Linked DNA regions of Homo sapiens. The protein of the gene in region 2 interacts with the protein of the main gene of each other region in a biochemical or structural test. Each region holds a gene or a part of one and is shown on either strand. Other genes may lie near its edges.

Region 1 (7,128 bases), on a different chromosome or scaffold from region 2:
GCAGGTACTGAGCAATCCAAGCGCAGAGACTTCTAGCGGCCGAGTCGGGTCGGCCCGGACTGGCAAGCTGCAGCCCCTGCCCCGCTAGCCTCACGCGAGTTTCGGAGAAAGCGGGGACATCTGTGCCCCCCTCATTTCTCTCCCCTCCCTTTCTCGGGGGGTACCTAGAGCAAGCTCGGTGAAACCCTGGGGAAAGACCTCTGATCGCGTTGCTGGGAGAGACTGAAGCCCCTTCTTTTACCCCCTTGCCCACCCCGTTAATCTCCCTATCTCTAGCCCCACTTCTCACCCTCCCCTCCCTCCAAACCCCGACCATCAATAATTTAGGCCCCGGGAGAACTCGCGTTACCGGTATGAAAAGGCGGCAGCTGCGGGCAGATTAAAGATGAATAATTCAGCCTCCCCGGGCTCAGGGCCCGGCCCCTCAGCCCCAGTCTAAGGGGTGGGGATGGGAAGGGGACACGGCGGGAGTCCAGGGCTGGGGGACTGCAGCGAGTCGGCGCTGAGTCGGGCCTGGAATGCGCCACGGCCGCCAGCACCGACTCGGGCTGCGGTGTCTCACCCACCAGTCCACCGGCCCGCGGGCCCGCGCTGCGGCTCTCTCCCTCCGACCTCTGCTTGGCCGTGCAGAAACCTTTGGGTTTCAAAGTGGCTGCCCGCGGGCAGCCAGGACTCGGCGGACCCCCGGCGGAATCCGCAAAAAAGGAGAACGAGAGCTGTGGCAGCGGGCCGCGAGGCAGGCTGGCTGGGCGAAAACGGCGTGTGGACCCGGTTCCACTCCTCCCGAAAAGGACCGAGGCTTTCCGGCCCGCTCGCCGAGACCCGCGGAGGCCTGATGCCCTCGGCGCGGCTTTCCTGCGCTTGGAAATTACTTAGAAAAATATATTTTATCCCAGAAGTATTTTTAAACGCCCCCCCCAACCCCCGCAACGCTAAATATATGATTAGCGAAAAACACAGCTCTCCCTCCTCGGCTCTCTTGTCCTAAACACAGGTCCAAGCCGGGTCTAAAGTTTCCTTGTGAAAAGTTACAAATTATCCTTAATTATTAATCTGCAGATAGGGAGGAGTTTTCTATTTAGAATTTTAGCTTTTAAAAAAAAAAGCCTGCAAAAAAAATCTCAGAATAGTTTTTCAAGCTAAAGACATGGCATAAATTCAAATTTTATTAAAATAATTCCCTCTTTTCTCTATTTTTTTCTCCCTTCTCCCTTTTCTTCTGTAACATCATGTCAACTTTCTTTCTTTAATTTCCTTTCCCGTGTTTGGATTTCTCTTTTCCTTTCTCCTCAGCTTTGGCATTTGCTTTCCTTTTGTTCTTTCCCCCTCATTTTTTGCTCTTTGCTGACCCCCTGGCCAGGTTGCTGGCTGCGTGATCCTCAATGGGGAGTCGGCAGTCTAGGCAAGGAGCCTCCAGAGCTGAGAGCAGAGCTGCACTCTGCCGGGGGCCCACCTGGAAGGCTGCGCTGCTGGCTCTCTCCCTGACTTCGATTTCTTCTCGGAGCCCCTCTTTGTTTTTAGAGCATCCCCCAGGCAGAGGCAGGGAAAGATGACCATCGTGTCTTGACAACCTGGGATTCCCAATGTGAAGGGAAGGGAAGGCAAGGGAAGGGGGGTGGGAAAGAAAGGAAGAGGAAGAAAATATTTCAAACCAACCCACAAGAAGCCTATGCTGGGCTGGAAGGGCCTGGAGATGCTGAGAGATGAGGGTCAGAAGGGGGCACCCCACCCCCACACTCTTCTGCCCAATTGTCCTGACACTGAGGCTGAATACTCTTGGAGTCTCCTGGACCCCACGACTCTTAAGTTTGAGAAAGATAAAGATGTGGGGAGACAGGAGAGGGAGGCAAACAGAGGAAGAGAGAAAGAGAGAAAAGACAGAGAAAACAACAAAACAACACCCTGAAAACTGCCTGCTAATTTGCCCCCCAGCCCAGGGCAAGAGGCTGACTAGGGAGAGGGTGGCTGGAACCAGGGCTCCGAGGCCGTGGATCCCATGACCTAAGAAGGAGCGGATAGAAAGAGCAAAGGCAGGTGATAGGGATCAGGGAAGGTAGGAAGGCAGGCAGACAGAGAGGTAAGAATGGGTGACAGAAGGCAGGAGAGAAACTGGAGGCATTAGAAACACCGGGCGAGGGAGAGAAAGAACGAAAAGAGGGACCAGAAGCCAGGGAGGCCTCCAAGATGGGACCTGAGCGCGAGGGGCCGGGGCCACGCTGGGACTGGACAGGGTTGGGACGGAGAGCCCCGAGCCGGGACAGGAGCCGGGCGCCGGTACTCACGGTGCATCGCGGAGAAGGGGTCTGCTTTGCAGTGCATATCCATGGGGAGGCAGAGGAGCGGGAGCAGCGCGGCCGCCGCCGCCGTGTCGCCTCTCAAACTCAACTTCAGGACTTGAGGAGAAAAGGGAGGGACGGTGGGGGAGGGAGGATGAGTGAACGCCCGGCTGCTGCGGGGCGCGCGGGGGCGGGGGGCGCAGCACTGCGCTCCCCGCTGGGGCTCCTCCGGGTTGGCCGGAGCTTGCAACTGCAGTAGCCGCAACTTGCCACTGTCGGGGCTCGGGGCTGGGCGGTCAGCAGAATGGCCCCGGGGCGGTGGGCCGGGCCGGGGTGCACTGGGGGCGCATGGCTCGCGCTGCAGCTGCAGCCAGGGCTGAAGCTGGGCGGGGGAGGCGACTCGCTCAGCTCCCCTGGAACCTGGTCATCCGAGAGGCGGTGGTCGGAGAGCGCGCGGGGCGGGGGCGGTCAGAGGGCGCCGGGAGGGGAGCCGGGCCTCTCCAAGTGCTGGCGAGTTGGCGAAGTTGGCAGAGAAGTAGCAATCCCGGGGATGTCCGAGGTGGCGCCTGCGGGAGGGGAGCGCGCGGGCCAGGCCCCCGCCCCCGGAAAAGGCAGGCGCACGCCGCCGCGGCCGAAGGGCCGGGAGGGAGGGAGGGAGCCGAGCGGCGCTGGCAGCTCTGGGCTGGCCCCAGGTGGGTTGCGGCTGCGAGAAGACTCGGCCGGAGACTGGAGCCTCGGCTCCCGGTGTGTGTCTCTCTAAAAGCTGCAAAGCCCCCTCCAGACCTCCTCCCCCTCCCCGCGCCGGGAGATGGATGACTTGTCAGACAAAGGCAATAGATTCCACCACTCTGTGATTCGCCAGCGCTGGAGCCCCGAGCTTCGGCGAGGAGGGCCCCGAGCCTGTCACTCCGGTGCCGGCTAGGGGAGGGCAGGGGAGGGAGAAATGGGAGGGAGGGAGGGAGGGAGCAGCCGGCGAAGGAAGAGGGAGGGAGGGGAGCGGACCGGGGGAGGGGGAATGGGAGCCCGGGATTAAAACTACACTGAGAAACGAAACTCGCCGATAAGATAAACGCTAGATAAGGATAAAGAGCGGTCAGTCTAATGAATATTCAGGTAACGACAGAGGGCCTCGGAGCGCGCTGCGCTGTGAAGCCGGGCTCTCAGTTCTAACTCGCCCAGCCCTGCCATCCACTGGCCAGTGCCCGCCTGGGCCGCGCGGCCCCGGGCCCAGTGCGCATCCCTAGCCCCAACCCCACCACCCTCGGCTCTGAGTTCCCTTCCGTTCCTTCCCGGCTCTTCCTTCCTCTCTTTCTGGTCCTTCCCTTTGGCCTTTCCCTCCGGAGGTACCTTCCCACCCACGCACCCCCCACTTCTCATTCCACGGAAAAGTGTCCAGCAGTTTGTCTTGTCCCCTCCCGTTCCACGCGACTGTGCGCAGGGCCTCCCCAGTCCCCTTGCCCACCGGGTCTGGGCAGTCCAGAACGCTTGGTTCAGAATCGAGCTGAAGACCTCCGGCGAGTACCCACCTGCCTCGGTGGGACCCAGCGGATGGCGGGAGAGCCGGGGGACTTGGTTTCTGAACCCTCGGGTGACTGGGAAGGGGGTACAGGGGAGGGAAACAGTGCGGAGCTGCAGGTCGCTGGCGGCAGAGGATGTGGGAGACGAGGCTGGCTCTCCCCGGCTGGGGAGAAGAGGAGGCTGCGGACGCGGCTGAGCGCCGCCCGCTGCTAGCTCGGTGGATCCGGGGCGAGCGCAGGAGGCGCAACCACGGGGACGTCCCCACTCCTGCCGGAGCCTCCGCAGCTCTCTCTGGCACTAGCTCCCTTGCTCGCTGGGGTCCGCTCGCACGCACCAGGCAGAAGAAGCCCTTTGTCTCCTAACTGGTTAAGTACAGAATATCCGGGAGATCTTCATGAAATATTTTCCCTCGTCTCATAAATCATCTTGGCACTTCAGCTGATGTTTTAACTCTCTCTCCCTCCTTCGCTCCCTCCCCCCGCTTCCCTGGGTCTGCGAAAGGGCGGCTCGGCGAAGCTTGCGCAGCGCTCTTGCAGCCCGAATCCGAGATTCCTCCAGCCCCCGTCTGCAGCTCCGGGCGCCCCGCGGAAGCGCGGCGGACTCGCGCTCCCCTCCCTCTGGCCGGAGCCTGGGCGGCAGATACCATGGGGAGAGATGCACCTGCCTGACTCAGCCTAACTACTACTACTGGGCGTCTTGTACCCGGGTTTTTGGGATGCCCTTATTCCTCAGGAGGAGCTCAGGCCAGGCTCAGCGGGACGAGGTTCTGAGCCTCTCACTCCTGTGGGGCCTGGGTCCGCTGGGATCCTGGCATTTGCCCTCCCTCCTGTATCCTCCAGAGCCCAATAAGCTTAATCCACCTGCGGGGTAAAGTCTGGGAGGAAAACACTCCTCACCGCCTGCCCCTCCCAGCCCCTATCCCACTTCCCTTGGGTGGCTAGGCAGGTTGGTTCCCTTGGGCTAGAGGTTGAAGACGCAGGGCCTAGCCTCTAAGGTCAGTCTCTTCCTCTTGAGGCCTGCAGATGGCGCTCCCGGGTTTGCTTTGGCCTCACAACCCCACGAACACGCACTAACTTCGTGTAGGGACCGAAGAAGGAAAACAGTTCGGGCAGCCGAAAAGTAACAGCTCCCAGGCCAGAGTGCAAGGGATCTCAGGTGGTATTAGCTAGCACAGCCTTGGCTTTCCCCTCTGGGAAGTAATTAACCCAGAACTGGGGTGAAAGGAACGTTGAGAAAGGGTCCTTATTTAGAGGAGCTCAGAACTAAAGTAACCTTTGCCCCAGGTCTCTCCAAGTTGGTCATCCAGGAATTTGTCTCGGGGTGTGTGAACTATTGAAGGAAGAAAGCTGTGAGTAAACCCCCCCCCTTCCACACAGACACAGATTTTTCTAGAACCAGCTAGACATGTCCCTATGTTACAAGTACCATGAAATGTGGGTGCCCACAACAAGCATTTTCACATGTTGGGCGAGAAGGATTTTCCATTTTGTAGAGAAGGGGACTTAATGCGCCAAGTGTGCTGGAAGTTGTCCTCACACACCTGTCCTTCACATGCACCTTCTGAGGAGTAAAGACCCTTCTGATAGTCCCATTCCCAGGTAGCCCCTGAGAGTCCCCCCTGCTCCTGGGATCGTCTCCCCAGCACTGCACTAGCTGGACACTCACTCTTCCGCCAGGCCGGCTCCTGGCCGCTTCCCCATTAGCTCCAGCCCATTCCTGGGTCTAGAGAGTCAAAGAGTAATGCTCCCTGGAGATTAGGAACCCCTTTTCTCCAAAGCTCTGCCTTCTCCTGGGGCTCCAGGATGAAGGGCTGGCCTTCATCCAGTCACTGGCCGCTCCTCTGACTCCCCCTTTTCTGTTCTCTTTCTTCTATACAGTCTAGTAGAGGGGTGGGGGGAAGCAAGAAAGCAAAAAAAAAAAAAAAAAAAAAAAAAAAAAAAAAAAAAAAGGAAGAAAGAAGAGGAAAGGGGAAAAGAAAGAGAAAGAAAGAAAACAACCCAACCCCAAACACTACCCGGGCTCCGACCTGTCAGGGTTGGTTGCTTTTCCCGTCCGCCTCTAAATGAACCTTTTCTCTCTGGTGTTTTCAAAGCGGCCCTTCCACCCCCCAACCTAGGGGCATTTACACTTCAAACAAGGAGCCCGCCTCCCTGCGGAAATTTAAAGGCAAATAAACTTTTGGGGAGTTGCTCTGATACCCATCTCGGGATTTGCTTCATTAGCCGCCTCTGTGCATCTGATCTGCCCAATAAATCTTCCTTGTGGATCTCGGCTCCTTTGCCTTCTCGGCTCCCTTCCCTGCCAGGCTTGCCCAGGCGCCTGGCGGCCCCCAACCTTGCCTCCGCCCTCCAGGCCGAGCTACTGCCGGCCTGGTTTTCTGGCTGGGCCGCGCCTGCTCTGTCTGGGTGTAGGTGTCGGGGTGGCGGATAGGCACCCCGCACCTCGAGTGTACCCACGCACCGGCGCCCCAAGCCAAGCCAAGCGCGACTCCAGGGCTCTCAAATGCGTTTCTGGGCATGTTGTGCAAAAGTGAAGTGCCGGTGTAGACCTAGTCCACTGCCCGCTGCCCCGCTGCCACCCGCTCCCGCTGCCTTCCAGAAACCCTTTCTCCTGTTTTCCGGTTTCCAGTTCCCTGGCCCAGCGTTTTCTGCCCAGGCGAGAAAAGGCAGAAGCGTGGTTGCCTCTCCTCCTCCTGCAGGGCCCTGACCCGGGGCCCAGGCGCCCGGCCTCCAGTAGCTTGGGAAGGCGGCTGAGCCTTGGTGAGACGGAGGGGGCCGCGGGAGCATCCCAGCCGCGCCCCTCCCCCGTGGCCGGGACCTGCCTTCCTCCTTCCACTTCCCGGGGAGCGGCTAGGGGAGCTAGGACCGGGGTCTGAGGGAGGGGATTAGAAATTCCGAAATTAAATGCATCTCCCCAGGAAATGCTCCCCACAGCGCGGACCAAATTAAATGCATTAAAGTTCAGAGGGGAAAAAGCTGTTTAGAACCAAGGGGAGAAAAGTAGTCCGAAGGGAAGAGAAGCAGAAAGGGAGGGGAGAGAGGGAGAACAGAGCTGCAGCTCCGCAGCTGAGCTTCATTTCTGGATTATTCCCACTTTTAGAAGTCACCACCAAAAAGAAAAATAAAAGTTCTTCTGACAACCGAACTCCAGAGCCGACCAACCGAGGCTCACTCGCCCTCTGGGTCCCGGCGCACCCCAGGGCGCATACCCTCGGCTGTCAGATCCCAGGGAGCCGAAACTTACACCCCAGCCCCTTCCGCAGAAAGGCCTGACCGGCTCCTGCCCGGCCTTTCCCCCTCCTCCTCCCCATTCTCTCCCCGCCCTTCCCCCTGCC
Region 2 (7,243 bases):
GAGTAAGACATGAGAAGATGCCTGCCCCTCATAGGGTTTGCTCTCTGTGGTATATTTTTTCGTGGCTAGTCAAGGCTTCATGTCCACTACTACACAGAGGTCTGGCCTGAGCTCTTGGCCCATCTGCCCGAAGGCCTGCAAGTAGACACCCTAATAATTTAAGACCTTTTAGGAATTTCAAATTATAAAAAAAAGTTGGAGGACCTAAATGGTTATCCAGACCAATAGCCATTTTTCAAAGGTAGAATCAGAGACCCAGAGAAGGTGCTCACCAAAACTTTTGGGGAGATGAATCACCCAGAAAGAGGTTTTGTAGCCAGAAGAAGAACCTCAGGCTCTTTCCAGACCCTGATGTCTAGAATGTTCTCCAGGTTGCAACACTGCTCTCTAACAAGAAGGCCCCTGACCTCCTGCAGAACAGGTTAGGATGGTATTTATGTTTTACTCTAGAGATGATTTTATTTTGAGGCCTTCTAGATACTCTGTGAACCAATGAGAGAGGCTGGGAGAGTGGAGTGGCAGGGGTGGAAATGACCAGAATCTCTTCTGTAAACAAAGAAGTGCAACCGTGAAAAGTAGGGGAAAGATTGCATGCACAAATCAGAAAAGAAATATCGCTTGTGCTGCTAAGTTCCAGGGGAGATGAGTTCACAGAAGCCACATTTGCCAATCTGTGGAATGACCAGCATGGTGCTCAGAACACCTTCATAGAATGATGAGTCAACTGGATTTCAACTTATTTTATACCAGGGATTGCACGTCCTATAAAAAACAAGAACAACAAACCTTGGGATATGAACTGCAAATTCATCTAATTTGAGCAGATGAAACTGATATGGTCTCTTCAAATTCAGTAGCTCTTAAAAACATGCTGGGACTATAAGAGCCTAAAGACATCAGTTGCCTCAGTTCTCAGCATGTTATCAAGATGTGCCTCTTCTTTCTAAATACGTGAGAGCCCACCATATTCTAGGAACCTGTGGTTACTAACTCACCTAATCTTCACACCGGCACAGTAGAGTGTCATTATCATTTTGCACTGAGGAAACTGAGGATCAGAAAGATTATGTAACATGCCAAAAGTCACACAGCAGGTGAAGCAGATCTTGGGTTCAAGTTTAGTTCTGTTTGACTACTCCAAACCCTGCCCTCTATTCTCTGCTGGGTATCCTCCACCTCTCCCCCACAGAATCCCTCTTTCAACTTCTCATCCCTCAAAACAATGACAGCTAGAGACCCTCCTCTTTCATCCTAAAACCCTGCTCAAAAGTTCTGAGCCCCAACCTCAACCCTTCCATTAATTTGCTGAGGTGGCTACAAGCAACCTGAGACTCTCCCATATCTTATTTTTCCATCTTTAAAATGGAGTTATTATATCAGTCCATCACGACTTTATTCTGTGTGAAGCATAAACAGATGTTATTTCAATCCTACTCCGTCTTCCTCTATTTGGGGGAAGTTTAACTGAAGAGTTTTACAAGATAGCTCACTTAACATTATGAACTGCATTCTGAAAGACTATCTGCTGGTCTACTTTACACAGCTCTTTTTAAACTTCCATATGAAGGGACTGGTGAATCTGTTTGAAGATCTATAGTACAGAACAATTACTTGATAAGCGCTTATATTGCACAAAGTGGCATATTACAAGGTAGGACTAGGAAGGAGCATTACAGGAAGTTGCTAGATATGAATAGCCAGATTACCTGGAAAACATACCTGGACACTCATAGGAAGTTTGTCCTATCCTCTGTGTGAAATTGCCTGCACATTCACATAGTTAGCTGGGGTGTGGGGAAGAATGGGTTTGCTGACACCTGAATTTTGAGAGAGAATGAGGCTTGGGAATCAGATGGGGCACACAGCAGCTGCAACTGCCAATCAAAGTTTTGTTGTTACAACAGAAGTGATTGCTGTTTTTTAAATGGGTTTTCCCAGCTTAACACAGAAACTGATCTTCATTACACTTGATGCTTCTATCCTGATAGCGAGTGAGAGACAGACGAAGAGATTGTTCTTCAGGGACATTTACTCTGAACACTTCATTATCCTTCTTGAGGCAAGCTGGGTAGGCAGAGAATGTTCTTCCATTGGGCAGAATTATGAGAAGCAAAGATTTGCACCTATTACAACAAACTAGAGGGAAAGAAGGTGAAATGAAAAGCCAACATTTTCATGAAGTTATGACTCCCTGTGGCACCCTGAGGAGTAATGGGTGTCTGGAGGCTGAAGGATGGAGAGGTTCCTGAATTTGGGATTTGCTTGTCTCCGGGAAAGAGGGACTGAGATCAGTGTAAACTTTCCTCAGGCTACACGCACACAACCATCCCGCTTCCTTCTGGCTCTCAGCACAAGTGGCCCAGGCACCTGTAGCAGACCCTGTATTTAAGAGGCATCCTAGCTCCTTAACAGCCTGACTTGATAAATTACACCATCAGCCCTTGCACACCTAGGAGATTAGATCCTGCCCCTAGGCAGATGAGAGCTGCTAGACTCTTCCTCCTCCTGCTGAAATTCCTCTCTATCCCTAACCTAACCTTACTTCCTCCTAGATATCTTTCAAGGGTGGGAGAGGAAGGAAAATGTGCTTAGAAACTCCTTTGCAATTTTTCTGCTGATTCTGAAACCCTAGTCCCCCAATCCCTCCAACCCCAGCACTGTATCACCAATTCTGAATACCCTAAGTTTCCAGAGTAACTCAGTTTTACTACTGGGAACTGGCTTCCCGTCTTCTCAGACCAGAAAGTGTTGAACTTTATTATTAGACCAAGCGGTTGCACAAGTGGCCTCAGTCAATATACACAACCCCCAAAAAAAGGTTATCAGTGGTATCCTCTTTTTGCAGATGAGGAAACTGAGGCTCCCAGAAGGGAAGCGTTATGCTCCTCCCCAGAAGCTTTAGGTCTGTGTGTGGTGGAAGCAAAGAAGCCCCTTTCCCTGTTCTTCTACAGGTCAGGTCCTAGCTTGCCGGTTTGGGCGCGCTTCCGCCGCCCTCCCCTCCTGCCCGTCACCAGGGGGGAAGCAGGTGAAACTCCAATAGTGCTGCAAGGCCTATGGCTTCCTACCTGGCCCAGGCCAGAGTGGGAAAAAAAACATCTTTCCCTCAGTAGCTCTGTCGACACCTTCTGTACTAGGAGTGCAAGACTTCTGCCACTGCTGCAGTGACCTCGTCTACAGAGCTCGTCCCCGGCCCAGGGAACCACAGATGTTCTGGAACTACGAATAAACCAGAAATGAGTGGGCCGGGGGGACCCTCGGCTGCAAGTGTCCACCCAGCTGCAGGTCAAGCTTTGCTTTCACTGCCTCACCATCCTAGTGCCTCACCATCCTAGTGCCTCACCATCCTAGTGCCTCACCATTCTGCCTCACCATCCTCCCCCAAGGCGGAGGCGCCTTGACATCCGGGTTTAAACAGGAGAGTGAGGAGCCCCAGGGGTCCAGCTCCCCAGTGGCGTGGCCAGGCTGGGCGCCGGTGCAGCCCAGCTGCTGGGGGAGCTTCACTTTGGCTACTCCCTCTACCCATAAAGTAGTCTCTTTCCAAGAGTTCTCCCGGACTCCTTCACCCTCGCCTACGCTCTCTGGCGGGCAGTTCTGCAAACCCAAACCGCCAGACCAGGCCAGGGAGGTTCTGGGGCCTGGAGGTAGTAACCGAGGTAGAAATAAATGGAGTCCCTCCAGGGCATGCTCACCACACCTAACGCTGCCTCACCTCCCCCGTGGCCTCGGCGCCCCTTCCTAAGTGGTCAGTTTCTCTTCCGCCCTGCGGGCTCTCCTGGCCCACCACCTGCGTCGGCCGGGACGCATCCAGGGTCTCTACTCTTCGCTTCCTCCTGCGTCCCCTTCTTCCACGAGCACCCCAGCTTCCTCTGGCTCTCACCTGAACCCCGAAGCGTAGTGTCTTCTCTCTGGACTAAAGCGGAACTGAGAACCGGTGGAAAAGCCCCGCGCCTAGGCTGCAAGGCACTGGCTTAACAAGTCCAAAGGTTAGGTGAAGTTTGGCTGATAAGCAGAACCAGTAAAAGAAGGTCTCTAGCCCCCCAGCGTGAGTACAATGGACCCTGGCAAAGCCCCGCTCCCGGCCCAGGTCTTCTGCTCTCCAGGTCTGCCCCTCCGGCTCTCCCTCTCTCCGGGTTTCCCCCTCCCCACCATCATTTGCATCCAGCCGAAAGCTGGGCCCTTCCCACTAATTTGCATATCTTATATGGCCTAATGGTGGCGATCATGGCAAGTTAGAAGTTTTCTGACTCCTTTCGGAGGAGCCTCCGGGACCCCGGGGAGTAACAGGTGTCTGGAGGCTGAAGGGTGGAGGGGTTCCTGGATTTGGGGTTTGCTTGTGAAACTCCCCTCCACCCTCCTCTCTCGCACCCACCCACCCCCTCACCCCCTTCTTTTTCCGTCCTTGGAAAATGGTGTCCAAGCTCACGTCGCTCCAGCAAGAACTCCTGAGCGCCCTGCTGAGCTCCGGGGTCACCAAGGAGGTGCTGGTTCAGGCCTTGGAGGAGTTGCTGCCATCCCCGAACTTCGGGGTGAAGCTGGAGACGCTGCCCCTGTCCCCTGGCAGCGGGGCCGAGCCCGACACCAAGCCGGTCTTCCATACTCTCACCAACGGCCACGCCAAGGGCCGCTTGTCCGGCGACGAGGGCTCCGAGGACGGCGACGACTATGACACACCTCCCATCCTCAAGGAGCTGCAGGCGCTCAACACCGAGGAGGCGGCGGAGCAGCGGGCGGAGGTGGACCGGATGCTCAGGTAGGCGCAGAGCGAGGTGGAGGGGACCCACCCGAACCCCTGGAGCCCCGGCCCCGGGCCTGAGTGACACTGCGCCCGACCACACTCGCCAAGCCCGTTTCCCACCAGAGAAGTCCCCCGGGGGGCGCTCTGCTTCTCTCCCAACACCCGGACCCTTCCCAATCCCTTAGCGGGACGACCCTGCGGCCCACCGGGCTTCTTCTCCCCAGGCCCAGGCCAGCGTCCGAGACCCAAGGGCTTTTCCCCGCGGGGCTGGGGCTGGGCCGGGGAGAACTGGAGCTGTGGAGCCCTTTGCCGGGAGGTTTGCCCACGCGACTGAAGGTGCGAGTGGGTGCAGTGAAACCGCTGCGACTTCCCGGGAGCAGAGCCTCGCGCCGCTGCAAGCCCCAGGCCGCGCATTTTTCCTGCGCCCTGCCTCGGGTCTGGAAAGCCGCATGTCGGCCTCGGACACATTGACCTGCATGATGACCTGCAGTTCTTTGCCGAAGGACAGGCGGCATCCGGAGCCGGGATCTGGGAGGCGAGTTCCCTGGTGGGCACTCTTGTTAGCCGCGCCCATGCAAGGCCCGGAATTATCCGGGATCCCCAACGCGGGTTTAGATTTGCAAAGGGCATGTTCCATGCAGGGTCCGGGTGGACACGCGCGGGGCCAAAGAAACCAAGCGCGGTGGTGTGGGGGCGAACGCGTCTCAGACCTCAGTTCGCAGAGGATCTGGTCTCAGTCTGAGAAAGGAGGGCGTTTCCAGACCTCGCTGCCCACCCCCGGCCTCTCCCCGGGAGTTCAGGCCGGCTGGCAGTGTATCCCCAGGGCCGGGATCGTTTGTGGGTCCTCCCCGACCGCCCTAGACTTTGACAGCTGGTTACTAATTATCTAAGGAGCCGAGCGGTTCCCTGAGACAGCACGTCGCTCCCGGGCCACTCCGCTTTAGGACAGAGCCCATCGCGTGGCTTCGGACACTGAAGCGCTGCGATTTCGGGGCTGAGCCTTGGCCGCACGTCCGCAGCGGCGGTTTGGGGTGGGATATGACCTTGCATTTGAATTTGTGCTCCGAGGGCCTGGCGGTTTGCCCTCTAGCCAAAACAATCAGGGGAACTTGTAGATTTTTTTTCCCCAAACACACTTTGGTATAATTCATAGGTTTGAGGTTCTTCCCTCGTCGCTCTCCCGCCCGGAGGTGATTTCTCCCCTACCGGGAGAGAACTCCTGCAAGAGAGTTCCGCGAGGCGGAAGGTGTGAGTCGCGGAGGCTAAGAGGGGTCGAGAGAGTGGCCCCTAGGAGCGGCTGGGGCGCCAGGGCTGCCGGGGAGGTCGCTCAGGACCTGGCGGATGAACCAGGCTCCCACCGCCGGCCACCGGGGGCCACAGGGCCTAGGCCCTCCCACTCGGCCGCAGGCGCCCGCTTTCTAGCGCGGCGCTGGAAGGACCTGGGGCGCCCCTCCGCACCCAGCCCCGCGCCGGGCTGGCCGCAGCTGAGACGTAACATAAACTGCAGCACGTGGAGTTGGGGTGTTATTAATTTATTTCTATAAATCATCAACAGAAAGATACACAAAGAGCCGTGATTAGGTTGAAAAGAGAGGCGGGTTATTCATTGGTGAAGTTGTAAACGCGGCTTAGAGGGGGGAAGGAGATCAAAACGCGGGCGCGGGGCTGCTCGCCGCTCCCAGCGCGCACCCAGCCAGGCGCCCCGTGCGGCCCTGCGGCCTCACCGCTCTGGCGCGGGACGCGGGCTCTGTGAGCGCCCGAGCCGCCCGCGGAGCCCCCGGGTCGCCGACACCCGCAGGCCCGGCCGGCGGAGAGCCAGGCCCGGCCCAGGGTCCTTAGACCCCAGCCCCGCTCTTCCCTCCCCAAAGCCCCAGGCCCCAGCAGGGCAGGGAGAGGGACTGGGGAGCCGGAGACCCTCGCCGAGTTGGAGACGCGGGACAGACCTGGAGGCTTTTTTCTCCCGTCCCGAGCGGGTGCTGCCTTTCCTCCCCCGCTCCCGGGAGCGCCGGACTTGATTAAAGTAATTTTTCAAGAAATCGCTAGCGGTTCCTAGGTCACTGCACAGGGGGCTCCCAAGCCTCGGGCACACGCACTCCCTTCTTTTGCCCACCGTGTTCCCTTAAGACGAAAAGCAAAGAGAAAGAAAAGTCGCGTTTTGGAGTTCCCGGAGTTCTAGTAAACCTCCTGGAAGAGAAAGGCAGGGGAGGAAGGTCGGGACTGCGCGCTTCCCGGTCCCCGGCTCCCGGCCGGAGCTGGCCTTTCTCGCGGCCTCGAGGCAGGTGCGCCGGGGGCGTCTAGAAAGTGGGCTGCATTCTAAGAAGCCGAAGTTGGGCTCCTTAACGAACGCGCTGCGGACTGCGCTGGAGTCCAGGCTTCTCTGCTCGTGGGCAGCAAAGTCATTGTTTGAGAAGGAGCGTGCGGGACGGACCCTGCGGGCGCCGCGGCCGGCGTTTGACACCTGCGCTTGGGACACAATGGCCGCAGGCCCTCTTCGGGACCGGTGCCTTT
Region 3 (7,021 bases), on a different chromosome or scaffold from region 2:
GGACCCAAGCTGTTTCTGAGCTGTCAGTTCACAGCCCAGGGTCCAAGGCCTCTTGAGCCACCGGGCACCACCCAAGCCCCTTCTGAGAAAGGACTGCACAAGCCCTCGCAGCTCCTGGAATTTTTACTCTCCGCCTTCACCTTCTTGCTATTTCCTAAACCTGCTGGGTGTATCTCGTGATTCAGCCCCCTCAGCCCCAGGGACCTCAGGGCCTTTGCACTTGCTGACTTCTCTGCCTGGAAAGCTCCCCTGCCTCGTCTTCTCAGGGCTGTTCTTTCTGGTCTTGCTGGATATCACATCTTTGGGGAGGTCTTGCCTGACTGCCCCACATAGCCCCTTATTTTTCCTCCGTAGCATTTATCAGTATCAGAAATTATATTATTTGTTCACTTGTTTATTGTCAGCTTCGTTCCTTAGGCCGACAGCTCCAGGAGGACATGGGATTGGCATTTTTCATGGCTGTGTCCCCAGTGCCTGGCTTAGTGTCTGGCATATAATAGGTGCTCAGTAAATGTTTGTTAAAGGAATACACATGAATTCAGCAGAGGTTTTCTGAGCTCAGAATATGTAGCAAGTACCACGTAGGCACTGGGACTACAGAGACGGACAAAATGCAGTTCCATCCTGCTCTCAAAGAGCTCATAGTCCAGCCCTAGCTCCAGACTGGCACATAGTAGCACCCTATGAAATGCTTGTTGGACGAATACGTGAATGAATGAAGGATATCTTCAAGAAATACCACATTGTTTGGGATAGCTGGAAGGTAAAGTGCAGGGTAGAAAGGGGTGAAAGGAGTTGGGACAGGCAGCTAGAGGTCTGGTCACTAGGAGCTTTTGCTGAGAGATAATGGGGAGCCATTCATAATTCTTGAGTGATACTGTCAGATTGGGCAGCAGTTCTGTGCAGGTCTCTGTCTTAGAGGATGAGTAGTGGGACTACACATAGCTCTCAGCCTGTCTCAAAACATCCTCGTCCTCTTCCTAACCATCCCCCGACTCCTCCCCTCCCATCATCCCATCCGGGCTTGGCATCCTGGGGATGGGCAGGAGGGAAGGATCAAACTGGAGTCTCACGGGAGCTGACAAACCCTCCCAGTAGTCTCCCAGCCCCCGTCAACTGTCCTTCTGAAAGAAGTGATCTGGAGCCTGAGTGTTTTTTCTGAGCCTCTAAGTCTATTCTTGGAGTCCAGGCCTCCTTTGAGCAGGGAGCAGGGTCCGTGTTTGTGTTGGGTGAGAAAGGAGATGGGTGGGAAAAGGTCTAGACTGAGAACCCCAGGGTAGACTCAGATTCCTGAGTCTGCCCTGGGACCTTGCTCTCCTCCCCAAGCCCCTTAGCACATTCTTCAAGCTAAGGAGATCCCATCTTGACAGACAGAAAGCAACAAACACAGTCCCACAGTGTCAGACACCCTCACATACCACTACCCCAGCACCCTACTGTTGACCCGACCACAACAAAGATCTCAGAAGCACATTCAACACAGAGCGAGTTAGGGAGACCTCAGCTCCCTAAAGTAGTGCTAGTGTCCAAAGGACTCTAGACCCTCCCCAGCCCAGCCTCCTGCCTCCCAGGCAGACTTTCTCTCTCCTTCTTGCAAACCCATTCCAGTGTGTCTTTGCCATCTTGATGAGGTTGACACACCCCTATGTCCCACCCAAATCTCCCCAGCTGTGTGGAGATGAAGACTAGCCAGTTGACGGTCTCAGCTGGTCTGAGCTCTGAGCTCTGGTTCTGGGGTGAGAGTGACAGAGGGAAAAGGTGGAGGAGGGGAGACCCCCAGGGCTGAGGGCATGGGGGAAAGAACCAGGCAGAGGCTCTGCTCAAGACATTCCAGAGGACCTAAGCTTCCCCCAGAGCAAGGGACCCCACCCCACTCACCCCACATTAGCTGCCCAGGAAACAAACTACTGCTGGTCCTTGGAGTGAGACCCTCTAAAGTGATCAGATGCCTCAACCTCATTCATTCTTGAGAGTTGAACTTGACATTTTGCAGGTGAGCCAGGGTCAGGCGAACTGAGCCCTGGGCCTGCTGTGAGATCTAGGGAAGCCACGGCCCCTTTGCGGGCCTCAGTTTTTCATCTGGGAAATGGGCATCCTAGCTTTGCCCCACAAATCTCTGTGGGCTTTTGGGTTGGGAGAGTCAAATGAGTTAACTGCTCAGGGATACTCCCGAGGTTACACAGCTGGTAAACGGAGGAGCTCGCTGTCTGTCCCTAGCCCGAGGAATCCATCAGTGCCCTCGACTGTGGCCAGGCCTCAATGCCTGTGGCACAAGCCAATAATAAAGGCAAAGGTAAAAATCTTCAGAAGGTGTCTAGTCGGCAAAACGATCACTGCTCGAATGCCCGCAGCCTGCTTTCTTACCCTGTAAGGGGAGTCAGGGAACTCAACTGTGTGCCCAGCAGGGATTGCCACGTGGTTCTCCGTCTCGGTGCTGGGCAGATTATCAGCAAAGCCGTCCCCACCTCATACTCAGGGTCTTCCTCCCATAAAGGGCGGCATCACCAGGAGGTCATCAGGGGCCTGGGCCCTGCAGGTTAGGTTCACGAGGGCCTGCCTCTCCCTCCTACCCTCTCCCCTGCCCTCCTCTGAACTCACTGGGACACTGTGCCCTCTCTCTCCTGCCCTCTCCCCTGCTCTGCTCTGAACTGACTGGGACACTGTGCCCTCCCACTCTCCAGGAGCTCCTGCTGCACCACTCCCAGTCCCACCCCAGGAAAGCACTGCTTCTCCCCGTCCTCTTTCCTGGAGAGCTAGACAGCAGGTTCCACCTCCCCTAGATTTCCCAGACTGCCAAGGATGACTGGGTGCCCTCCTCTGTGTCCTTTGATAGATAAGATGCCTGTATCACTACTCCATGTCTCTATGATCTTTGCTAGTAGCTTCCCTCACCCGACCCAGACCCTTCCTCCTCCTCTCCCCCGACCGAGGGCAGGGACCATGGCTCTTTCTCCTCTGAAGTCTCAGAGCCTTCAGCTCTCAGCCTGGGGCCAGAGTCACCATCCATGCCTGTTTGTGGAGTAAACAAGTGAACATCCCAGTAAGTGAACACCTGGACCTCCATCCAGGTCCCCTAAGCTGAGCTTCTAGAGACAAGCCTCCCCTGGTAGTCTGTGTTGCCAGCACTGACAGTGAGTTCCTATTTGCGGAACCTGGCCAGGCAGGGAAGGAGGGGATGCTCACAGACCTCAGGAGCTGGTAGAATCAAAGGAAGGGGCCTGAGAGGCTCTTTGAAAGCATTGGCTGTGGGCTTCAGTGTCGAAGGGGCAGGAACCTCAGAGTCCGGAGGAGTGGCAGGCAGAGCAAGCCACACACAGTGACAGCAGACAGATCAAGAGTCCTGCTGTAATGTTTGTGTTAGAAGATGGGGCCATCCCAGTCTGATGGGGGAGGCACAGTTCTCTGAGCTTGGAGAACTCCCTGACTGATGGGAGAGGCCTCATTAGCCAGTTCGTTCATTCATGCATTCATTCATGCATTTATTCATTCAATAGACAGGCCCAGAGTGACCCTTAGGGCCAGACCCTGGAGCTAGAGAGGCGAGTAAGGCCCTGCTGAGTTCTCAGTGGAAGGAGGATCCCTGGGTCAGGACCCTCCTTCAAGAGAAACACCGAAGACCAGCAGCCATCCCATGCATGAGGGCACGCAAATCAGGTAAACTGAGGACCTCGAAGCTACAGAGACTTCAAGGGAACAACTCTGGCAAAGAGTGTTCCAGGGCCAGCCTGGCATTGTGCCCAGTGTGCTCGTGTCTCTGGGGTCTGTCCGGTGAGCCTGGCACTAATGGCCTTTTCCCCACAGGTGATGAGCATCTTGGGCAACCCCAGTGCGGTGCCCCCGCAGCCACAGGCTGACTTCTCCATCTCCCCGCTGCATGGCGGCCTGGACTCGGCCACCTCCATCTCAGCCAGCTGCAGCCAGCGGGCCGACTCCATCAAGCCAGGAGACAGCCTGCCCACCTCCCAGGCCTACTGCCCACCCACCTACAGCACCACCGGCTACAGCGTGGACCCCGTGGCCGGCTATCAGTACGGCCAGTACGGCCAGAGTGAGTGCCTGGTGCCCTGGGCGTCCCCCGTCCCCATTCCTTCTCCCACCCCCAGGGCCTCCTGCTTGTTTATGGAGAGCTACAAGGTGGTGTCAGGGTGGGGAATGTCCATTTCACAGATGGAAAAATTGAAGTCCAGCCAGATGGAACAGTTCACCTAAAATGACACTGAGTTGGGCAAAACCCAGGACATCTCCTGGCTAAGCCTCTGCTTCCGTACTATGGCTCCAACAGAAATAAAATACACAACACAAATATCACTTAACATTTCTAGTGGCCACATTTTAAAACATAAGAAGAAACAGGCCAGGCGTGGTGGCTCATGCCTGTAATCCCAGCACTTTGGAAGGCTGAGGCAAACGAATCACTTGAGCCCAGGAGTTCAAGACCAGCCTGGTCAACATGGTGAAACTCTGTCTCTACTAAAAATACAAAAATTAGCCAGGCATGGTGGCGCACACCTGTAATCCCAGCTACTCAAGTAGGTGAGGCACAAGAATCACTTGAACCCGGGAAGCGGAGGTTGCAGTGAGCCGAGATCACGCCACTGTACTCCAGCCTGTGTGACAGAGCAAGACTCTGTCTCAAAAAAAAAAAAAAAAAATCAAGGAGAAGAAACAATGGAATTATTTTTACTAACATTTTATTTAACCCAGTACATCCAAAAGATTATCATTTCAAAATGCAATTCATATATAATTATTGAGATATTTTACATTCTCTTCTTTATGCTATGTCTTTGACATCATGTGTGTGTTTTACACTTACAGCCCATTTTAATTCGGACACTGAGTTTTCAACAGAAATACTTGATCTGTATTTAAATTTCATATAGTTTGCAACTGAGAAAATATACTTACAAACCCAAAGTGTTCCAAATTGTAAGTTTTCCAACTACTAAATAACCCAATTGAAGATTGGTTTTTGACTTTAAATTAGTTCAAGTGAAATCGGCATTTGAAATTCTGTTTCCCAGTCGCACTAGCCACATTTCAAGTGCTCAGCAGCCATGTGCTGCTGGTGGCCACTGTGCTGGACAGCTCAGTGGGAGACCCTGCCCCTTCTGCCGCAGGGCATGGGAAAGCTGTGTTTCCAACTCTCTCCTCCACTCCAAACTCTGCAATGGTCTCATGCACCCATCCCAGCTGCTATCCCCTTTGTGCCTTGCCTTGAGGCAGGGACCGTGGATCCTCACACCAAAGGCTGGAAAACGCAGGCCTGGACACAGCCTCCACCGCCTGGCAAGGCCAGCAGCAGGGCAGGTCCAGATGGGACAGGGAGCCAGAGGTCATGGGTCACTTTCCTGCCCCACCGCCCTGCAAAGGCCTCACCTGCTGGTGTCAAACTAATCAGAAGGGCGTGTGGCAAGAGGGTGAGGCCCCCATCCCTGAGGGTGTCCTCTCCCCCAGCCCAGCCCTGGGCCAGCCTTTCTGACCTCTGCTTCCTGCCCACCCCCCCAAACCCACTCCTCTTCACGTGTCGTTGGCCTCCACTGCCAAATGAGGGCCACTGCCAAATGAGGGCCAGCTATGTCGGCCTCCACCTCCCAGCTGTGTTCACAACCCTTCCTGTGCATGTACATGTTTGCATATGTGTATGTACACATGTGTGTATGGGTGTTTGTGAGTACGTATGTTGGGACATGTTACAATTCTTGTGTGTGTGTGCATGTGATGCTTCTATTTCAGCACCCATGTGTTATTGCATGCATCTTTGCATATGCGCGAATACATGTATGTGTCAGTGGGCACATGTGAGCATATGTGTATATGACTTCACATGCGTGCACATAAATGAGCATATTGTGCATACATGATGTGCACATCTGTGTGTGTGAACACACATGTGCACACATATATGTAAGTATATGTATCTGCTTAAACATGTTTAAATGTGCATTCAAGTCTGTACATATGGTTGAGCGTGTCTTTATGTGTGCCTCCATGTTTGGCATAGGTATGCATATGTCAATATGTAGATAGGTATAATGAATATGTATGCGTGTGTATAGATGTATATGAGTGTGCAAACATGTGACTGTATGTACATGTGTATAGCCATGCATTGAGGCATGCACACATGCTTGAGTGTGTCTGTGATTGTGTGTTTGGAAGTACCTGTGTGTGGACACATATTCTGTGTGCAGTGTGTAAATAGGGGTGAGTGTATGAGTGTATGTTTGAGTATGTCATAGGTGTGGCTGTGTGTACATGTGTATGGATGTACATCTGGGTGTAGACATACACTGTGTCTGTGTGTATAACTGTGTGTGTGTGTGTGTGAATGTGTACGTGGGGGTCTGCATGTATATTTGAGAGCAGGGTGCACGCATGTGCATGGGAGAATTTCCAGAGGGTCCCAGGGTGACCTCCTGACCCAGCCCGTGTTCCTGGGCATGCAGCAGGACACACATGCTCTTGATAAATATTTTAGAGTGACCCCAGCGGCAGCGGCAGCCCCGGCCTGGGGCAGGCGTTAGTCACACCCAAGCTCGGTGCCCTGCTCCAGGGGCGCCTGCTCAATTCGGAAATAAAATTAACCCCAAAGTCAGCATGGGGGCAGCAGGGGAGGGGATCAAAAGGGAAGGGGCCTAGGAGGCGAGAAAGGAGGGTTTGTTCTCCTCTTGCTTGGACAAAGCCAGCCAGAGCAGCTTCCTCCTCCCCCACCACCCCCTACTCCATTCTTCTCTTTTCCATCCTCTCTTTCCACTCCCTTCTCCTCCTGTCACTCCCCTTCCAGCTCCACCCCTGCTGCCCTGGCTTCTCCAGGAATAGCTCAGAGCTCCTCTTGGCCACATTCTCCAGCCCTCCCCAAAGGGAGCCCAGCACAGACCCCAACTCACCCCACAGAGACTCTGGGCCCAAGCTGGGAGGGAAGGGCTGGAGGAAAAGCCCCCTCCTCTGCCCCCAATTAGTGCAGGCAGCCACACACTTGCCTCTCTGAGCCTCAGTCTTCCCATCTGTGAAATGGAGG
Region 4 (7,278 bases), on a different chromosome or scaffold from region 2:
CCAAGCGGGAACGGGGACACGGTCTAAGAGTCGCCCGCTGCCAGGGAGGGGTTGGGGGGCAGCCTCGAGGGGACACCGCGGAACCAGGGAGGGATGCGCATGGAGGGAGTGGGAGAAGGCGTCCAAGTAAAATGCATGCTCCGGTCATCGGGGGTAACGCGCGTCCCCAAATCCCCTCTCGCTGTCGCCCTTTTTTTCAGTCCTCACGGGGAGAGGCCGGCGCAGCAGTGGAGCACCGCAGGGGCTGGATCGGACCCGCACTGCAGCATCTGCAGGGCTCCGACCTGGTGCGGGCCTCCAAGGCAGGGGGCGCGCGGCGGCACAGCCGGTGGCCGCGATTTTCCGGGCCACTCCTTCCCCCCTTACACTCCCCTCCCGCCCGCGACCTTCGACCTCCATCCTGGACCCACGGGGTACTGGCCCGGGGACAAGGAGGAGACGTTAAAGGTATCAAGGGGCGCGGCACCGCCGCCTAGACGGCGCCGGGACGCGAGGTGCGAATCGGCGGCGTCCGGCTGCGCTGCCCTACCTGGGAGGTGCGGGACCCTCGGCCGCGCTCCACCGCCGCGCGCCACCTCGTGCTGGCCTCCGGGAGGCAGCCGCCCGCGCACGATTTATAAATGCAAAGGCCTTATTGTTGTTCTTTGTTCAGGGATACCATTGTCTAGTCATCCACGGGCAGCCTGGAGTTTTCCCAGGGTTTGCGGCGCGCACTCCCCTCCCCCGCCCCCACAGACTTGCTCTCCAGCGCCAACCCGGATCTGCCTAGGTGCCCACGGGTCCTTCCCGATCGACTTGAGTGTCCTTCCTCCAGCCCCTGCTTTCCCAGCATCGAAAACACAAAAGCCTGCCGGAAATCACCCAGCCTTTGCCTGGTCACTCAGGGGCCCACGGATAAGCGTGGCTCTGATTCCTCCAGGTCAGCCCCACGGTTCGCCACCTACCCGAGTTAATTTCTGCGCCCGCTGACCAAAGGCCCCAACTGGCAACGGGCACAGCTTCTTGGTGCGCTAGTCGCTTCCTTGCCCAGCCTTTAGAGCCTCGGGTCCGGCCCAAGGACCCGGGGACGTGAGCGCAATTAGTAGCCAGGAGCCCTGCGACCCTGGACCGTGCAGTGCTAACGCACCCGAACGGCTATGCGAGCGGTGTACTCGGCTCTTACTTGTGAAAGTTGTTTCCCCCAACCCCCTGCGTAAATCTCTTGTGTTGAGAAAAGCAAGGCTTGCAGGAAGCCACTCCGGATGTTTGCTGCTTTACATGTGGCATCTGTGGCTGGCTCTGATAACGTCCCGGGGCACCACGTATTAAAGTGAAGAGACTGAAATAGAAGGCTCCACACACCGCGCGCGGGTCAGCGACGTCGCCGCCCTCCACACTGCCCCCCGAAATATAAGACAAGCGAATGATCAGAAGAAATGAGATCTAACTAGGTCACAGTATGTAAAAGGGACTAGTCTTGGAAAGCCACCACAATTCCTCCCCTGTAAATTTGTAAACTGTGAATTTATGATCTCAGGGAGGGTGTTATAAGAAGTAGGGGGAGGGGCGTCAAAATCTGAAGCTCCTACTCCAACCTATGATTGTGTACTTTCACCTGATTTCTCTTACCAGACCAAGATCAGTCCCCAAGAACAAGGGCAAATAAAAATAGGGAAACCCGGCCGGGCGCGGTGGCTCACGACGGTAATCCCAGCACTTTGGGAGACCAAGGCGGGCGGATCACCTGAGGTCAGGAGTTTGAGACCAGCCTGACCAATATGATGAAACCCCGTCTCTACTAAAAATACAAAAATTAGCTAGGCGTGGTGGCATGCGTCTGTAATCCCAGCTACTCGGGAGGCTGAGACAGGAGAATCGCTTGAATCGGGGAGGCGGAGGTTGCAGCGAGCCGAGATCGCGCCATTGCACTCCAGCCTGGGCAACAAGAGGGAAACTCTGTCTCAATAAATGAATAAGTAAATAAATCAATAAAATATGGAAACCCCACGTTTTCTTCCCCATCATTTTCTCCACCTTCTTGGCTCCCAAGCGCACCTCTCCCAATAATGAGCTGGGTGAGGAAGAGCATGAGGATGAAGAAAGTGTACAGGGCTAAATCTGTATATGTACATTTTTTGGACTCACACCTGGATTGTATTTCCTGTAGTGTTTTTTAAGGAATTAGTCAAACAGACTAGACAGATAAAAATGAATTCTGGACCAGATATTGTTTTTTAATTTTCAATGTTTATTCTAGGAAAACTCCTTAGCTCATAAAAGATTTAGTGTTAAGAGAAAATTCTGCTTTGAGAGCTTTGAAAAATATTTATTATTATCCAGAAAAGTTAGAAAAGATCTCAAAAAAAAAAAAAAAAAAAACAGCAAAAAACAAGGTACTACGGGGTTAATTTGTAGATTGCTCTCTCTCCTCCTATAGTTTTGTTGCTTATTTAATCATTTGCAATGTGCTTTTGCTTTATACTGAAGCCCATTTTTTTTTCAGAAAAAATAAAGCTTTAAAAGTACATCATCATTTAAATTTGTCTAAAATCAACCGCTTTCAAAACTACCAACTAGAAGTAACACCTCTCTATGATTTCTTTATGCAGATTTAATTTTTTTTCTTGTTTGAATCTTAGAGACCCAGGAACTAGAAACACTTTCTTAACTTGTCCCCTAGCCAAGGCTTCACAGATACTTGCAGAATTAAAGATAAGTTGGCTTAAAACAATTGTGTAAGAGTTCTTTTGAGAAAAAGCAATGCCAGAGAAACTGAAGGCCAGGAGTTTGCAAAAGTTTTGTATTTTTATGGATGCCACTAATAAGCAAGACTGGACAGACGGTCTTGTTGTTGTAGTATCACACTCAAAGCAGCAGCATTTTACTTCTCAGATTCCAGGTGTAAGCTCTACTTTTTTATCACGCCTTCATAATAAAGAAAATCTGTTCTGGAGATTCGTATATTGATTTCTTTGCAAAGTTATCTCTAATTATGCAGGAATGGCTGTTAGTTGCCCTCAAAAACCAACACAAATACACAAACACAACAGCCTGGCTTAGTGATTATTAAGAGCTGCAAGTCTGAAGGCGGACTGCTGGGTGTGAATTCCACCTTCTCAACGCTGTAGTCTCCAGCAAGTTCCTTAACTTCTCTGCCTCCGTTTCCTTTCCTGTAAGATAGAGTCTACCTCAGGGTTAATATGAGGATATGCTTCTTTGCTAATGCTGGAGGGCGCTAGGAATAGCAGTGGCAGGCTGTGTCATTTCTCAGTGTTGTATAACGGCTTGTTTTAAAAGTCCCACTGAAAACTTTTTTTTTTTCCAGATCGAAACACAAGTTTAATAGTCATTCAGATTTCATTCCAGTCTAAAGAAACTTATAGAAATCTAATTATCTGCCAGAATAACCGCTTTAAACTGACTGTAAGAACCACAGTTACTTTGCAGCTAAAACAGATTGTTCTCTTCCCCCAAACAAACTCGGACATTTAGACAAATATTGCTGCTGTCTTTACATTTTAGAAATCAGTATTAAGGCTCACCTGTTACTGAACACATACGAGAAACAGTTTTGTTATGCGTATCTTATATACATCATGTATACATTTTCGTACTTTCACATGATGTGTATAATAAGATACACATAAAAACTGGTTGGCTTGTCATGAGTAAATGCTTTATTCTTTAGAGTGAAGGAATATTGGATACAGAACGTCGTTCCATATTTAATCTTGCTTTAGAAAATTAGGATTTATCTTGGACACAGCATTTTGAATATAACACAGGCAAGTTGAGTCCTGGGGGAAAAATTGTATTTTTAAATTTATTATCAACGGTGTCTTTCGCATTTGAGAAAACACATTTGAAGATGCCCATGCAGTTCCTTGGAAGTAAACTAGGTCACCCACCACTGAAACACCCTCGGCTTCTGCAAAAAGATGTGCTTTAAAGAGAATAGAATGGACGCTCGGTATGTTCATCTAAACGACCTTGGGCAAGTACGTCGATTCCAAGGTACAATCAGCCCTCCCAGACGGCTTTTCGAGTCTCCCTAACCCCGGTGGGAGAGGACGCGGCGCCAGAGCCCAGCTCCGGCTAGTTTTCCCGGGGGCAGGTGTAGCCTTGGGCGCGGGGCCGGGGGAGGGGCAAGGGGCGGGCGTGGGGTTGGACTGGGACGTGGGACTCGGACCACGGCCTGGGCGTGGGCCTAACGACGCGGGACCGGCCCGCCCTCGCCGCTCCATTGGCCACATCTGTGCAGAAAAGGCCCCGCGGCCCAGGGGCGCCCGCAGTGTCACTAGGCCGGCTGGGGGCCCTGGGTACGCTGTAGACCAGACCGCGACAGGCCAGAACACGGGCGGCGGCTTCGGGCCGGGAGACCCGCGCAGCCCTCGGGGCATCTCAGTGCCTCACTCCCCACCCCCTCCCCCGGGTCGGGGGAGGCGGCGCGTCCGGCGGAGGGTTGAGGGGAGCGGGGCAGGCCTGGAGCGCCATGAGCAGCCCGGATGCGGGATACGCCAGTGACGACCAGAGCCAGACCCAGAGCGCGCTGCCCGCGGTGATGGCCGGGCTGGGCCCCTGCCCCTGGGCCGAGTCGCTGAGCCCCATCGGGGACATGAAGGTGAAGGGCGAGGCGCCGGCGAACAGCGGAGCACCGGCCGGGGCCGCGGGCCGAGCCAAGGGCGAGTCCCGTATCCGGCGGCCGATGAACGCTTTCATGGTGTGGGCTAAGGACGAGCGCAAGCGGCTGGCGCAGCAGAATCCAGACCTGCACAACGCCGAGTTGAGCAAGATGCTGGGTGAGTCCGAGTCGCAGACCCAGGCGGCCGGGCGCGCTGGCGCGAATCGCTAGGCCGATTTCTTAAACCCCAAACTGTTCTTTGCGAGCCTGACGCCCAAAACCAGGGGTGTGTAGCGGCCACGTCCTTTCTTAAGGCTCTGGGTTCCCTTCCCGCTTCCCGCCCTCCGACCCTCCAAAGCAGCTTTCCGCCTTGCTCTCCGGCTCCCGGATTCCCCAGGTGGCCGGGGGCGCGGGTCCAACGGCTCTGGGAAGGCGACTTCCCGGCACCTCCGGGCGGCGCGAGAGCACCCTTGGCCCTGAACTGGGCCGGTTGTGTCCATCCCTCGACCCCTTCCCTAGTTAGGTGTCCTTTTCTGTTTTTCGAACGACCGGGTGATGGGTGAGCGGAAAGCCGCTTCCAGGAGACCAAAAGAAAGGGGTGCCTTTAGAGGACGGGTGTTCCCCAAGGGCTCGGACTCAGGAGTCCCAGATCTCCCTCTTTAACTTCACCCCGGTTGCGCAATTCAAAGTCTGAGGGGGGAGGTGCGTCCAGGTGGGGCCAGGTGGGGCCTGGAGCGGGAGCGCAGCCGATAAGCCCTGCGCCCCTCTCCCCCTTCCTTCCACTGTGCAGGCAAGTCGTGGAAGGCGCTGACGCTGGCGGAGAAGCGGCCCTTCGTGGAGGAGGCAGAGCGGCTGCGCGTGCAGCACATGCAGGACCACCCCAACTACAAGTACCGGCCGCGGCGGCGCAAGCAGGTGAAGCGGCTGAAGCGGGTGGAGGGCGGCTTCCTGCACGGCCTGGCTGAGCCGCAGGCGGCCGCGCTGGGCCCCGAGGGCGGCCGCGTGGCCATGGACGGCCTGGGCCTCCAGTTCCCCGAGCAGGGCTTCCCCGCCGGCCCGCCGCTGCTGCCTCCGCACATGGGCGGCCACTACCGCGACTGCCAGAGTCTGGGCGCGCCTCCGCTCGACGGCTACCCGTTGCCCACGCCCGACACGTCCCCGCTGGACGGCGTGGACCCCGACCCGGCTTTCTTCGCCGCCCCGATGCCCGGGGACTGCCCGGCGGCCGGCACCTACAGCTACGCGCAGGTCTCGGACTACGCTGGCCCCCCGGAGCCTCCCGCCGGTCCCATGCACCCCCGACTCGGCCCAGAGCCCGCGGGTCCCTCGATTCCGGGCCTCCTGGCGCCACCCAGCGCCCTTCACGTGTACTACGGCGCGATGGGCTCGCCCGGGGCGGGCGGCGGGCGCGGCTTCCAGATGCAGCCGCAACACCAGCACCAGCACCAGCACCAGCACCACCCCCCGGGCCCCGGACAGCCGTCGCCCCCTCCGGAGGCACTGCCCTGCCGGGACGGCACGGACCCCAGTCAGCCCGCCGAGCTCCTCGGGGAGGTGGACCGCACGGAATTTGAACAGTATCTGCACTTCGTGTGCAAGCCTGAGATGGGCCTCCCCTACCAGGGGCATGACTCCGGTGTGAATCTCCCCGACAGCCACGGGGCCATTTCCTCGGTGGTGTCCGACGCCAGCTCCGCGGTATATTACTGCAACTATCCTGACGTGTGACAGGTCCCTGATCCGCCCCAGCCTGCAGGCCAGAAGCAGTGTTACACACTTCCTGGAGGAGCTAAGGAAATCCTCAGACTCCTGGGTTTTTGTTGTTGCTGTTGTTGTTTTTTAAAAGGTGTGTTGGCATATAATTTATGGTAATTTATTTTGTCTGCCACTTGAACAGTTTGGGGGGGTGAGGTTTCATTTAAAATTTGTTCAGAGATTTGTTTCCCATAGTTGGATTGTCAAAACCCTATTTCCAAGTTCAAGTTAACTAGCTTTGAATGTGTCCCAAAACAGCTTCCTCCATTTCCTGAAAGTTTATTGATCAAAGAAATGTTGTCCTGGGTGTGTTTTTTCAATCTTCTAAAAAATAAAATCTGGAATCCTGCTTTTTTGCTCTACTAGTACCTCTGTCACACTAGTCTTATCAAAAACCAGTTCTTAAGATCAATGTTAAGTTTATTAGTTAATGTAAATTTCTCATCCTCGAAAAGGGTGAACATAAATGCCTTTAAGGAGTATATCTAAAAATAAACATTAGGATATCTAAGTTTGATGTAATTGTTTCAGGAAGGAAAAAAGAAAAGCATTCTGGAATGAGCCTACTTCAAGTAATCTTAGTTTCTAAAACTAACAGTTAATATTTTCAATTCCAGTATATCACTTTAAGTAGAAGGGGATGTCCAAGTAATTTTGGTTTTCTAACTGTTGAATCATAAGCTTGACCTGCCCCCAGAGGCTTTTTGGATGTTTTTATCTGTGTTTTGCCATCTCTTTACACTCCTCGACATTCAGTTTACCTTAATCTTCACATTTTTACACCTTGGGAAGTGGCAAGCATCGCTGGGTTTAAGATAAAGGAGTCACAAAAACTAATCAAAATAAAATTTGCATTATGACAACTTTTAATACACTTTAGCATTTTATTTGATTGGTTTTTTTTTTTTTTGCTTTTAGATTTA

Evidence for each region.
Region 1: the proteins of HNF1B (region 2) and PAX2 form a complex in vitro, tested with the Homo sapiens proteins (one study listed by BioGRID).
Region 3: the proteins of HNF1B (region 2) and PAX7 form a complex in vitro, tested with the Homo sapiens proteins (one study listed by BioGRID).
Region 4: the proteins of HNF1B (region 2) and SOX17 form a complex in vitro, tested with the Homo sapiens proteins (one study listed by BioGRID).

Annotation. Positions count from the first base shown.
Region 1 is NC_000010.11:100,741,458-100,748,585, reverse strand, and holds the start of PAX2 (paired box protein Pax-2), read right to left. Parts: upstream 3,005-7,128; 5' UTR 2,394-3,004; coding exon of another isoform or gene 2,326-2,393; coding exon 2,283-2,325; intron 1,572-2,282; coding exon of another isoform or gene 1,399-1,571; exon of another isoform or gene 1,149-1,398; intron 1-1,148. UniProt on the Homo sapiens protein: Transcription factor that may have a role in kidney cell differentiation. Has a critical role in the development of the urogenital tract, the eyes, and the CNS.
Region 2 is NC_000017.11:37,742,048-37,749,290, reverse strand, and holds the start of HNF1B (hepatocyte nuclear factor 1-beta), read left to right. Parts: upstream 1-4,231; 5' UTR 4,232-4,406; coding exon 4,407-4,750; intron 4,751-7,243. UniProt on the Homo sapiens protein: Transcription factor that binds to the inverted palindrome 5'-GTTAATNATTAAC-3'. Binds to the FPC element in the cAMP regulatory unit of the PLAU gene. Transcriptional activity is increased by coactivator PCBD1.
Region 3 is NC_000001.11:18,731,831-18,738,851, forward strand, and holds part of PAX7 (paired box protein Pax-7), read left to right. Parts: intron 1-3,801; coding exon 3,802-4,048; coding exon of another isoform or gene 4,049-4,209; exon of another isoform or gene 4,210-4,308; intron 4,309-7,021. UniProt on the Homo sapiens protein: Transcription factor that is involved in the regulation of muscle stem cells proliferation, playing a role in myogenesis and muscle regeneration.
Region 4 is NC_000008.11:54,453,668-54,460,945, forward strand, and holds SOX17 (transcription factor SOX-17), read left to right. Parts: upstream 1-4,267; 5' UTR 4,268-4,471; coding exon 4,472-4,778; intron 4,779-5,390; coding exon 5,391-6,328; 3' UTR 6,329-7,225; downstream 7,226-7,278. UniProt on the Homo sapiens protein: Acts as a transcription regulator that binds target promoter DNA and bends the DNA. Binds to the sequences 5'-AACAAT-'3 or 5'-AACAAAG-3'. Modulates transcriptional regulation via WNT3A. Inhibits Wnt signaling. Promotes degradation of activated CTNNB1.